Linked DNA regions of Homo sapiens. The protein of the gene in region 3 interacts with the protein of the main gene of each other region in a pairwise test. Each region holds a gene or a part of one and is shown on either strand. Other genes may lie near its edges.

Region 1 (3,500 bases), on a different chromosome or scaffold from region 3:
GCTCTGTGAGTTTTCATGTAAACCAAATAAACTATACTTCAAACAAAAAGTGACCCTTTGTGAATAAAAATTTCCTTATGAAGAAAGGAAAAGAAAATCATACAGTTCTTTGCTAATCCAAAAGCTTTTCCACTAGAAAATAAATGTATCACTAATCAGATACTTGGGAAATGTTCTGTATTTACTGTACCTGAATGACTTTTAAAATTAATATAACTTTTGGGTATTAAATCTTTGTAAATGAATCGACCACATTTATTAAAAAAAAAATTAGGCCTGATGAACAATCCCAGCCTACCTGGGAAATGAAAGCCTTTATTAGTTTTATTTGTGGATTAGTTTTAAACTAGAATGTCATTCATTTTGACTTTTATCAAACAAATCTAAAATGTCTTTCAGGTGTAAAACATTAATGAACCACGATTCACACATGCTAACAAATGTAAATGGTTACCTCCAAATTCCTTTCTAGTGGGTGCAGGACTCCTAGCCCCTTATAGTTCATAAGAAAATAGGCAGCAGAAAGGAAATGACATTAAATACAGAAGTGAAATGTCAAAGATTGCTATAGTATCCATGACATCAAGTATCATGCAGGAATTACATATTATCTACGTACTACAAAAACTATTATTCAATGCATATGCTTATAATTGAAGTAACAGCACTATATTTAATTTAAAAGAACATTAAACAAATACATACAATTGTACATTAATACGTATGCTCTCCAGTTTTATTATACTTTTACAGAAATTAGTACATTTTAATTATTTTATGCTTATAAATCATCCAGAAATGAGGATTTTGAAAAAAATTAAACCTAATTTTACCTAAGAACAGTTTACATGCCTAACTAGATCAAATTAGCAAAAACAAAATAAACCTCTCTGGCTGGCTGGTGAGAAGGCAGCTAAAGGCAGCTGTGAAAACACCTTAGAGGAATCTACTCTGCAAACACTCTACCTTGTCTGTTGCGCCTACCATGTTCTTTAGAGAAAAGCTAAGAAATAGCAATAATGATAGAAAAAACTGTAAAATCCAGAAGCTAGAGATTGGAAAACATGCAAAACATTTTAAAATAGAGTGAAGAATTTTACATCTAGCAGAAATGGAAATAAAAGGTTGTCACCTGAAGGCGGAGGAGGTCTCTGTGGGGGAGCCGGGCGTGTGGGAGGGGCGACCGGGCGGGGCGGCGGCGGCCGCTTGGGCTCCAAGGGCTGGGCGGGGTCTTTCTGCGGCAGCGGCGTTGCTGGCTGCGCGTCAATAGGAGAACCTAAAAAGCGCACAGGAGGTAAGAAGATCAGCTTCTAAGTAGCTGTTGACAGAAGGGAACAGTCCTTCATATATATGTGTAATGTTCTATAAAATGTGCACAATGGTGTAAAGAAAGGGCATGTATTTTCAGTATGAATAACAAAAGCAGTCTACTATTAAACTGCCCTTTGGTACCATGGCAGCAATAATGCTACCTCTGTGCTGACTTCTTACCTAGGCCTCAGGTGCTGAAAGCTAATTTACTAAGTGGCCCTATTGATATGCACAAAGTATTGTTTGAGTTAAGCCATTTTGTAGTCTGGCCAGTAGAGAGAAGAAAAAGCTCAAATAGTTAACGGGTTCATACCATAGAAAATCATCAGTTATAAGACATAGACAAACCTAACCACATAGAAAAAAGATTAAGAACAATTGTCATCTAGTGACAGTTATAGCAAGTTTCCTTTCCATTGAGAGCTTATCATCTACAAGTTTTCCTATTCTGTACCGGAGAAAACAGGGTGCACTTTATCACCTAGGTATGAAACTTAAACGATGACTCTCCAACATCAAGCACATTGGCCACAGGAAGCCATACAAAACTTTCAAATAAAATGCATACTCTGTGCACTGGGAGGCCCAGGAGTTCTTGACGGTGCTCGGCTTGGTCTGATGGGAAGGGAAGGTACAGGACCCTCTGATATTGTAGGTGACTGGCAGGGACTAGTTCGGGGTGAAGAGCTGGGGGAAGTACCAAGGCCGGAACTTGAAGATGGCTGGAGATGCTGAGGAAGAAGTTCCTCCACTTCAGCACTATAGTCATCAACATCACCTAAGGAAAAGCAGGCTTGATCAGAGATAACTCCATTTTAACTTGCTCAGAGATTTTTTTCACCTTAGGTTTTAAAAAGTTAAAATACACAAAACAAATATGAACATTATGTCATTGCAAACACACATGGATTAAGCATGAAGGCATGTATAAAACCACAATTAGTAGAAATGCTTGTTTCAGAAGATGTAAAGGTATCTATTGTCTCTGAGCAATAAGATGTCAGGTGACCAACCACTTGGAGCTGGGGTGACCCAATGGGCTTTCAATATGCCCCAGAGCAGCTTCTCCAGTGCAAGCCAACTCAAGTTTCCTGCTCTCCTTCCAAACCTGTCCACTGTGCTCTGTGGAACTGCCCCACTCCCTTGCCTAACCCAGGTCCAGCCTCAGAGTCAACAAGCTCTCAGGAGCCACACAGTCTTCCCCCAGAAGGCTCCTCCCTGCAACCCTCACCCCACAAAGACCCGCTTTGCTTTAATTAAGTAAACACTGGTTCTCCCCCAGGGTCTCCTCATCTCCACTTACTTCTGGGTAGGAAAGTGGGCACAAGGTAACCCTTGCAACCTAACTGCCATTCCAGAACATTAGTCTTCCAACCCTGAACAAAAAGTCCTACTGCTCTGAGGCTATGCCATCAGGAATTTATGTAACATCCTCTACCCCCACTTGCTACAGTCATCTCCAACGTCCATTCTTCCATTTCCTGAACCCACTCACTGAGGACTAAGCAGAGAGCAAGACTGTAAGTCAGGTCCCGCACCATCTTTCTGCGTGGCATCAAAGTCCATGTGGACAACTCGTTCAATAGCAAAATGCCTTGGTCCTATCCTTATGGACATTCGCCTTCACTCCTAACCCTCACCCCTCAGAACTGCACTCTTCTGAAATAATAAACTCAAAAGCTTCACTCTGACTTTGGCCTCCCAGCTTTTCAGTTCTCTCCCTTGGCTACTCCTTCTCTTTTGATTTCTTCAGAAGCCAGGGTTTGATCCCTCTAACTTTTACCTCCATCTGATTCTGCTTTCTTCTGTACCTACCTTCAGATTCTATGGTTCTTCATCTCAAACATTACCCTACTTCACTCTTCTTCCATTGCACGTGCTTGACATAACCCCATCCCTGCACTGATTCCCCTGTTTAATCTTTCTGTGATAACACTTGGATTGCTGACTGCCTCTGCTAAAGAAAACCACCCAGTCCTGACAACTGCAGTCACATTTGAAATTATGCTTTTCAGTCTCTTCTGGCCTAAAGTGCCTGGCAATTCCATGATTTGCTGGTTTGCTCTTCCCCTCACCCTTTGCTCTTCAGGAGCTTTACTGCAAAACTCCTTAACCCTCCTGAAACTGTGAGCTGTCCCACTCCTGCAGATCACTTCAACACTTCACAGAGAAGAGGGAAGTCTTAAGAT
Region 2 (4,295 bases), on a different chromosome or scaffold from region 3:
AAGAATGGACATGGTACTACTTCCTCATTGCCAACACAATTTAAGACAGATTGTATGGTATGTTGTTTCTCAACATCAGAGTTCCTTAAAGAGTTTGTTAGAAATACAGGGTCTTCTTACCCTATTCCAGAGTATCTGAATACAAATCTTTAGAAATGGGTTCTAGGACAATACAATGTCAATGGGTTTTTAGTTGATTCATTGGCACAATAAAGTTGGAGAACTGTAACACTTAGAGCACTTGGTGAAGAATAAACTGGAATCATACCTGTCATTGAACCTTGATTACTGGGGAGGCTGTCCCTGGGGAGGTCTGTGTGGTCTGCCCCCTTGAGGAGGTGGAGGTGGTCCCTGGGGCTTTCCAGCGGGAGGTGGCAGAGGCTGCTGGGGATTGCCTCCTGGTGGGGGTGGTCCTTGTGGCCTTCCTGGAGGAGGGGGACGTTGAGGTTTGTTACCTTCTTGTGGGGGTGGTCCTTGTGGCTTTCCTGGATGAGGTGGGGGACCTTGAGGTTTGTTGCCTCCTTGTGAAGGTGGTCCTTCTGGCTTTCCTGGACGAGGTGGGGGACCTTGGGACTGGTTTCCTCCTTGTGGGGGTGGTCCTTCTGGCTTTCCTGGACGAGGTGGGGGACCTTGAGGTTTGTTGCCTCCTTGTGGGGGTGGTCCTTCTGGCTTTCCCGGACGAGGTGGGGGACCTTGGGACTGGTTTCCTCCTTGTGGGGGTGGTCCTTCTGGCTTTCCCGGACGAGGTGGGGGACCTTGGGACTGGTTTCCTCCTTGTGGGGGTGGTCCTTCTGGCTTTCCCGGATGAGGCGGGGGACCTTGGGACTGGTTTCCTCCTTGTGGGGGTGGTCCTTCTGGCTTTCCCGGACGAGGCGGGGGACCTTGGGACTGGTTTCCTCCTTGTGGGGGTGGTCCTTCTGGCTTTCCCGGACGAGGCGGGGGACCTTGGGACTGGTTTCCTCCTTGTGGGGGTGGTCCTTCTGGCTTTCCCGGACGAGGTGGGGGACCTTGGGACTGGTTTCCTCCTTGTGGGGGTTGTCCTTCTGGCTTTCCCGGACGAGGTGGGGGACCTTGGGACTGGTTTCCTCCTTGTGGGGGTGGTCCTTCTGGCTTTCCTGGACGAGGTGGGGGACCTTGGGACTGGTTGCCTCCTTGTGGGGGTCGTCCTTCTGGCTTTCCTGGAGGAGGTGGGGTACGTTGGGGCTGGTTTCCTCCTTGTGGGCGTCGTCCTTCTGGCTTTCCTGGAGGAGGTGGACACACGGCATTCACTGAATAGTTGCCGCAAATTTTTACAGTAACGCAGCTAAATGGGGAAATGCACAAAAATAAGACCCAGACACTAATTTCTTTGCATTTTCAGTGAAGCTCTAGAACTCTGGAGTGGAATGCTGGAGAAGAAGGAAGCAGTTGAGGGGCTCTCAGTCTAAGGAGGAGTCAGAATAAGGACACTGGCCATTTGTCTGTCATCTCCCAGCAGGCACTCCTGGCAGGAGGGAAGTCAACCCACTCCCGTTTTCATCTAAGCCAAGCATCTCTGCCATTCAATTTGGTGGCCCTGCTCATGGTCCCCAAAATCAAGGTTGCATGAAGATTGCCTGCATTATTAGGGGGACTAATATTAATCAATTTCTAAAGGAAAATGTTGGTGAGAAGACACTGGAGAACTGATCCATTCATAAGCAGAAGAAGATAGTTAAAACAGATTGAGAGTGAATTGGGATTTACCTGATATTACGGAGGGAGATTCTTCCTGGCTGACATCTAGAAGAGAAGCACAGGATGATGGGAAAGGTTACATCTCGAATTTTGCAAGATTCACAGGTGTTCTACAGGGAAAGGGGACTTCTCACCACACCCCATGCATCCCCTAGGTTAGCTCATCAGCTACCATCTGTGAAGCTGCTGGAAGGGGAGGAAGGTGTAAGGGGAGGCAGGGTTGTTACCACACAGAGCAACAGCCATGAACTCAATATAGAAGAGCCCCTTTTTTTCTTCCCTAGCATCCTTCAAGACTTAATGCTAATTTAGTTTACACATGCCAGGTACTTCAATGTGATATTTTGGTATTCTTATGCCCTCCATCTCCTATAAATACATTGCTTATATTCACAAGCTTTCTCAATTTCGGTAACCAGAAGTAATTGTTTCAATACAATCTTACCTATACCACTCCCAGCACATTGAAATACTGTGTGTAGGGGAAAGAAAAATCACAATGATTGAATCTGATATTTCTATATCTGTAGTTAGACACAGGCAAGTGTTTTATCCAGTTCTGTCTCTGCAGTATCTCTAATGTGTGTTTATCTCCATCATCAATGCTGATCCACTAGGTAGAGCAAGGCCACAATCATCCCTGTGTACTTACTGAGATCAGTTTAGGATCTTCACAGCTGGACTTTCCTGAATCTGCCTTGCATTCACCACTGCATCCTTCACAGCACAGTTCTATCTCTCTATAAATGCAAATCTTACCTTCTCATTCCCCTGGTACAAATTCTTTATTGGATTTTCATTGTACATTAAATAAATTAGAAGCCCTTGGTGTGGAATGAGGGCACAACAGGTCTCCTGATCCTAGGCATGAAACCTCTGCAGCCCCATCTGTGTTTTCATTCTCCTCTCTTCCCCATAATTACAACTATCACCTCCTAAGCCCCAAGCAGAGTCACCACATCTTCTCCTCCTTCTGTCTTACCTTCATTTAAGCTCTGAGCTGAGCTCAGGGCCAGCAGGGCCACCGACAGCAGAATCAGTAGCATCTTGCTGGAGGCTCTGGAGTCACTCCCAACTCTGTGCTGGGAGAACCATGGCAGCTCCCTTTATAAAGAGGAGCAGAACAGTGGCACCTTTGAGCTCCACACTGGGTGGGCCTCACCACCCCAGAGACTGGGTTCTGCTTTCCTTACTGCAGGTCAGGTGTATCCCTTATTTCTGTCTGGGACTCTAGCCCAGAGGAACAGGTTGGGTTGGATGTTGTTTGTACCTTATTTCTAAAAGGTACAACTATGACTTGAACAAAGGTTTTAAAGGAACTGTGTCCAAGCAATCAGCACGGTGTCATAATTGAACTTCAGACGTCATTAGAGTTTCAATCTTTTTGGTAAGACTATTGTCCACTTTCAACTTTGCTATTTATTTCTGTGTATGTGTGTGTGGGCAGTGAAGCTACAGCCAGCGGTGATGATGATCAATATCTCTGGCTGTTTTTATAGCCTATTTCCATCTCTCGTGATGTGTGTGTACAGAGAGTATCACATTTAGCTTAACTTTTGATGCGATAGAGATAGTTTCTGCTATCTGGGAGATGTTTGAGGACAGCACACTCCTGGGCACACAGATGACAGAAGGCTGCCTCACAGCCTACTCAGGCTACAGCTATTGTTCATGCTTCTGTGGATCTCACTCAAGTCAGGAAAGGCTTCTTGTTGTGAAACACAGGAAGGCCAAAATTGTGTATTTTAAAGTATCTTTAGGGGTTATGAATGCAAAATGGACACACAAACCACGAGGAAATTTCTAGACCTGAGAAAACTGAATATATAGTTCCTTGCAGGAACCATGCAATATCATGTTGCCAAAACTTCCTTCATGCTCTTCCCTTTCTCTAGAATATTCTACAAAATTCACCCTCTGCTTCATTTCTTTTAAGAATTGTATTGAATTCCTACCTCTGATAATTAAGTGGCTACAATTCTACATTCAAATAAGGTAATCAGATACCCTCATTAAAGCCTCAATTGCATTGTATTGGTTTTCTTGGTTTAGTCAGTATTTGTGTTACCTGTTTTCTCAGATTGTTCTTCCACAAAGAGTATTTTTTCTACAATATTCTGATATGCATTCCTCCCTGACGTTCTTTCTGGTACTTCTTTGTTCATATTTTATTTTCTGAGTCAAGCTCATTTTGTGTAATTTTCTTTATATATCTGGCTTTTTTCCCCAGGAATTTGGTAAGATTTCCTTTATTTAATCTTCTAAGTAATAAGCTATAATTCTCACCACCTTTGTTTCATTCTTGTCTGTGTAATTTCACAATAAATGTTGTGTTTCCAAAAAGCCCTCTCAGAGTCCTGCATTGTTAGCACTTCTTTTAGCTGCTGATTCTTCTGTTATACCTAGTAAATCCCTGCTCATCAGTTCATGGAATATACAGGTTAGTCAGTGAGTCAGCTGCCATTTACCACTTAGACCTTCTGTGTGTCTTGTGTAATTGTTCACATTTTGTGCATGGCTGGTATTAATTTGAGGACAGCTTGGCTGGAGGTATGATGGAGGTAGAGAGGGTATGTGAC
Region 3 (3,500 bases):
TGTGCATGTCTGCCCGACAGACGCCACAATCCCAGGAGCAACATTATAAACTGAAATAACGTGAAGTTCTTCTTTACTTAAAGAATGTGGAGGGATTTGAATATCATATGTTACAAAACTGGATTTTGCCACAAATGATGATGCACTGCCCACGTAATTTCAATGCCCACTGAAGGAGAACAGTGGCTTTGCCATGAGCAGTCCATAAACTGCCAATGACAGCTGGCCAGGTGTTGGGATGTGCCTGTTATACAAATGTGCATGAGACAGAAGCAGATAAAATGGCGAATGAAAGAAATCCTACTACTAAGGAAAGAAAAGGAAAGTAAATGGGAACCATCAGATAGCTTTAGTTAGACATTCATCGAGAAAATAAAGGAAACAATTTTTCCTAAGTGCCAATGGTAACAATAAGAACGCTAGGAAACCTCTCAGTTTTCACAGGTTGCATCTTAGGTGTCTTCAGAGGATATGGCAGTTGTATGGACGTGCACAAGCTACTTACCTCAATTCCTATTTCAAATCCTCCACCAAGGCCAGCTATCCCAATGGCTGAGGGTGCAGACCATTCTAATAAAAAAACAAACGAACGTTATCCTAACATTAAAACACCCTCGACATGTAAATATAGGAAGGAAAAATGCTAAAATCTAAAGAGTGCTTCTATTGAAAATAATGAGACTTGGTATTTCCCCTGATTTTAAAGTGATCTTCAAAAAGAATATGTAATTTTTAAAAAGTTAAAAATATTTTTAAAGTATTAGATATTCATTATGAGTCTCATAGCCTCACAAGCCCATGTCCTCTAATCTTTCTCTACCAACATGCATAAGACCACCAACTACTGGTTCCCTAACCATTAGCCATACAGAGCACTTGGTAACTTCAACTGTCAATATTTTTATAGAACAACTTAGCTGTAGGTCTAGTCTTCAGCTAGAATTTTGTCACAGATTTAAGAGATCAGAAGGATTCGAGAGAGTTGATTATCTAACGGTAACATAATAATTGTTTCCATTGTAAATTTCTGAGGGCAAAAACTGTTTTAACACCTCTCGTGCTTAAGCAGAATAAATAGGCTATAAATTCAAGGTTATTAAAATTCTAACAAGATAAATCACATTTAGAAACTAAGTACAGTAATTCCATTTGCCATGATACGGCACATTTTAGGATTACTATATGCTTATTTTTCTTGATATAGAAACTCATGTTAAACAAGTCTAGAAAAATGTATTTTCAATTTGGTGGGGGGATGGTCTGGCCAAAGCACTTTTTGAAAATGGTTGCTACCATGCATGCTAGATACTAGAATATTGCTGAAATATATCCAGAACTATCCTACCCAGGCTTAGAGAAGTTTGGCTTACAGAAATTAGTGTCTGATAATTTTTCGTTCCCTATGTTAGGAACTGTCCCTGTGTTAAGATGGCTGGTCTTGGCCAGGATCCTGGGGAACATGTTGTGTCTTATTTGGACAGTTTTTAAATTACTCTCAGCAGAGTCAGCAGCTGCAGCTCAGGAAGAAGGGAGAGAAATGTAGGTTTTAAAACCAGTAGAAAGGTTTGCTGGGGCTCTGAGAGGAGCCCAGGGCTTGGTATTGACTGTCCCTACCCTTGGTCAGCAAGTCACCCCATCAATGGAGCAGTTGGGGACCTGAGACATGCAGGGACTTTCTCACAGACTCTGAGTCCCATCTGACAATGGGCTCCCTTGGAATGTGCCTCTACTTTGTTTGGTTTTACTGCTGAGAAGTCTGCTCATGGAAATTTGGATAATGCTTGAGAAAAAGAGAATTATTTTCTTCTCATTTTCAAAGCCACACATTGAGCTATGAAAACTGATCCACATAATAAGGAAGAGGTTTTTGTTGACTGCGGGGATACCTTGGTAAGAAATGGTGAATCTGCTGACTGCTATTTCAAGGCCATATATTTCACAAATGTATATATTGTATATTTATTGTCTGTAAGTGTCCCATGCTCTCTCAAAATAAAATAAAATTATGCTAAAAAACTGCTACTAATAGAAAAACGTGTTCACTGAACAGCAAATGTTAAATTGGTATAAAAAACATTTTAGTTAGTTTTGACACACCTGTGTCCATTTTAAATACTACTATAAATGTTAGTACTTGGGATTCATGGCAAATATTTTGATTTCATCTCTAAAGAATCAAGTAGTAGATTTCATCCCAGAAAGTAAAACTCGATGATACTGCTCTTGATATGATTCTGCCTTGGGGAAAACTCTTCAAATGTCACAGTTTTTATGATCTACCACAGAAACAAAGAAATTCACATATGGCCCCTTATTTTCATATCAATTTCCATAAAACAAAAGAAAGCAGCTACACCATGAAGTTGAGGAATAAGAATTCATATTAAACAAAAGAAATGCACATACTGCCATGTTTCAATATTTGCTCCACGGAAGAATTACAAAATGCATGCAAAACAAAGTTATATCTACCTGTCTTGTCTTCTCTAATATTTTGAGGACAGAGAGAGACGGAAAGGCTGGTTCCTGTGGCTTGTTCACTGACACCAAACTGCACGTTCAGTCGAGTAGCCCTTATTACATAAGTTTTAGTTGATATGCAGGAAACCTGTCCTACTCGCTATGCAATGTGTTCACATGAAAACAGACAGAACAAAGAATGAAGACTCTCTACTCCAGTGAACAGACGCCAACTTACTTCCATCTGGAAGGCGCGCCACTACAATCCCGCTGCCTCCTCTGGCAGTCACCAGGAACCCGGCTTTGATCACAGACAGAATTGCAAGGCCTTTAGCCTTCGCAATTACGTGAGCTGTTAACGTGGAAAACAATGGGAAGGTAAGCATTTTGATCTATGTGCCTGGATAGACGAGCAAGTGTTAAACAGAGTCAGTGTACACAGAGGTTATCTCTAGGAATTCGGGGCACACAGGAGCAATGAACAAAAGTCAGTCACTCAACAGATGGGCACGAGGCCTCTCTATTCCCATGAATGTTTTTTGTGTTTGCTATTTTTGCAGTGCTAAACACAACATCATAAATATCCTCACATCCTGTAACTGACAAAATAAATTAGATATTTGAAAGAGATTTTATTGCTATCTATTAGCAGGGCAAATATTTTGGCAATTTCAATTAATTTAGGATATAGTACATAAAAGATAAAAGCTACATTTTCAAAGAAATTAAGATCCATATAGTATTAAGGAGAAACTTTAAAAATTACAAAAAGGCAGCATGAATTAGAACTTTGATCTTAAAGCCACGTAGCTAAATTAACCTTGTATTAATATAAAAATTTGGATTCAAAAACAGAAAAATTAAGTAATTTTCCAATGTTAAAACATTTTCAACTTTATAAAATGATCTGCTATAGCATTTGAGTACCACTTAACTATTAGTACACTGATAATATAATTCCATTTAAAAATATTGGTTTATTCACATGTCAGAGATGTTCATTACATAAAATGAGGGTTATTGGTATATGTATCCACTGA

Evidence for each region. Proteins that work in one complex are often made in the same cells at the same time.
Region 1: the proteins of SH3YL1 (region 3) and SYNJ1 interact in a two-hybrid assay, tested with the Homo sapiens proteins (one large-scale study listed by BioGRID and IntAct).
Region 2: the proteins of SH3YL1 (region 3) and PRB3 interact in a two-hybrid assay, tested with the Homo sapiens proteins (one large-scale study listed by BioGRID).

Annotation. Positions count from the first base shown.
Region 1 is NC_000021.9:32,644,514-32,648,013, forward strand, and holds part of SYNJ1 (synaptojanin-1), read right to left. Parts: intron 2,090-3,500; coding exon 1,880-2,089; intron 1,277-1,879; coding exon 1,133-1,276; intron 494-1,132; coding exon 455-493; intron 1-454. UniProt on the Homo sapiens protein: Phosphatase that acts on various phosphoinositides, including phosphatidylinositol 4-phosphate, phosphatidylinositol (4,5)-bisphosphate and phosphatidylinositol (3,4,5)-trisphosphate. Has a role in clathrin-mediated endocytosis.
Region 2 is NC_000012.12:11,266,908-11,271,202, forward strand, and holds the start of PRB3 (basic salivary proline-rich protein 3 isoform 2 precursor), read right to left. Parts: upstream 2,801-4,295; 5' UTR 2,763-2,800; coding exon 2,699-2,762; intron 1,762-2,698; coding exon 1,726-1,761; intron 1,242-1,725; coding exon 286-1,241; 3' UTR 269-285; intron 1-268. UniProt on the Homo sapiens protein: Acts as a receptor for the Gram-negative bacterium F.nucleatum.
Region 3 is NC_000002.12:247,033-250,532, forward strand, and holds part of SH3YL1 (SH3 domain-containing YSC84-like protein 1), read right to left. Parts: intron 2,813-3,500; coding exon 2,699-2,812; intron 571-2,698; coding exon 506-570; intron 1-505.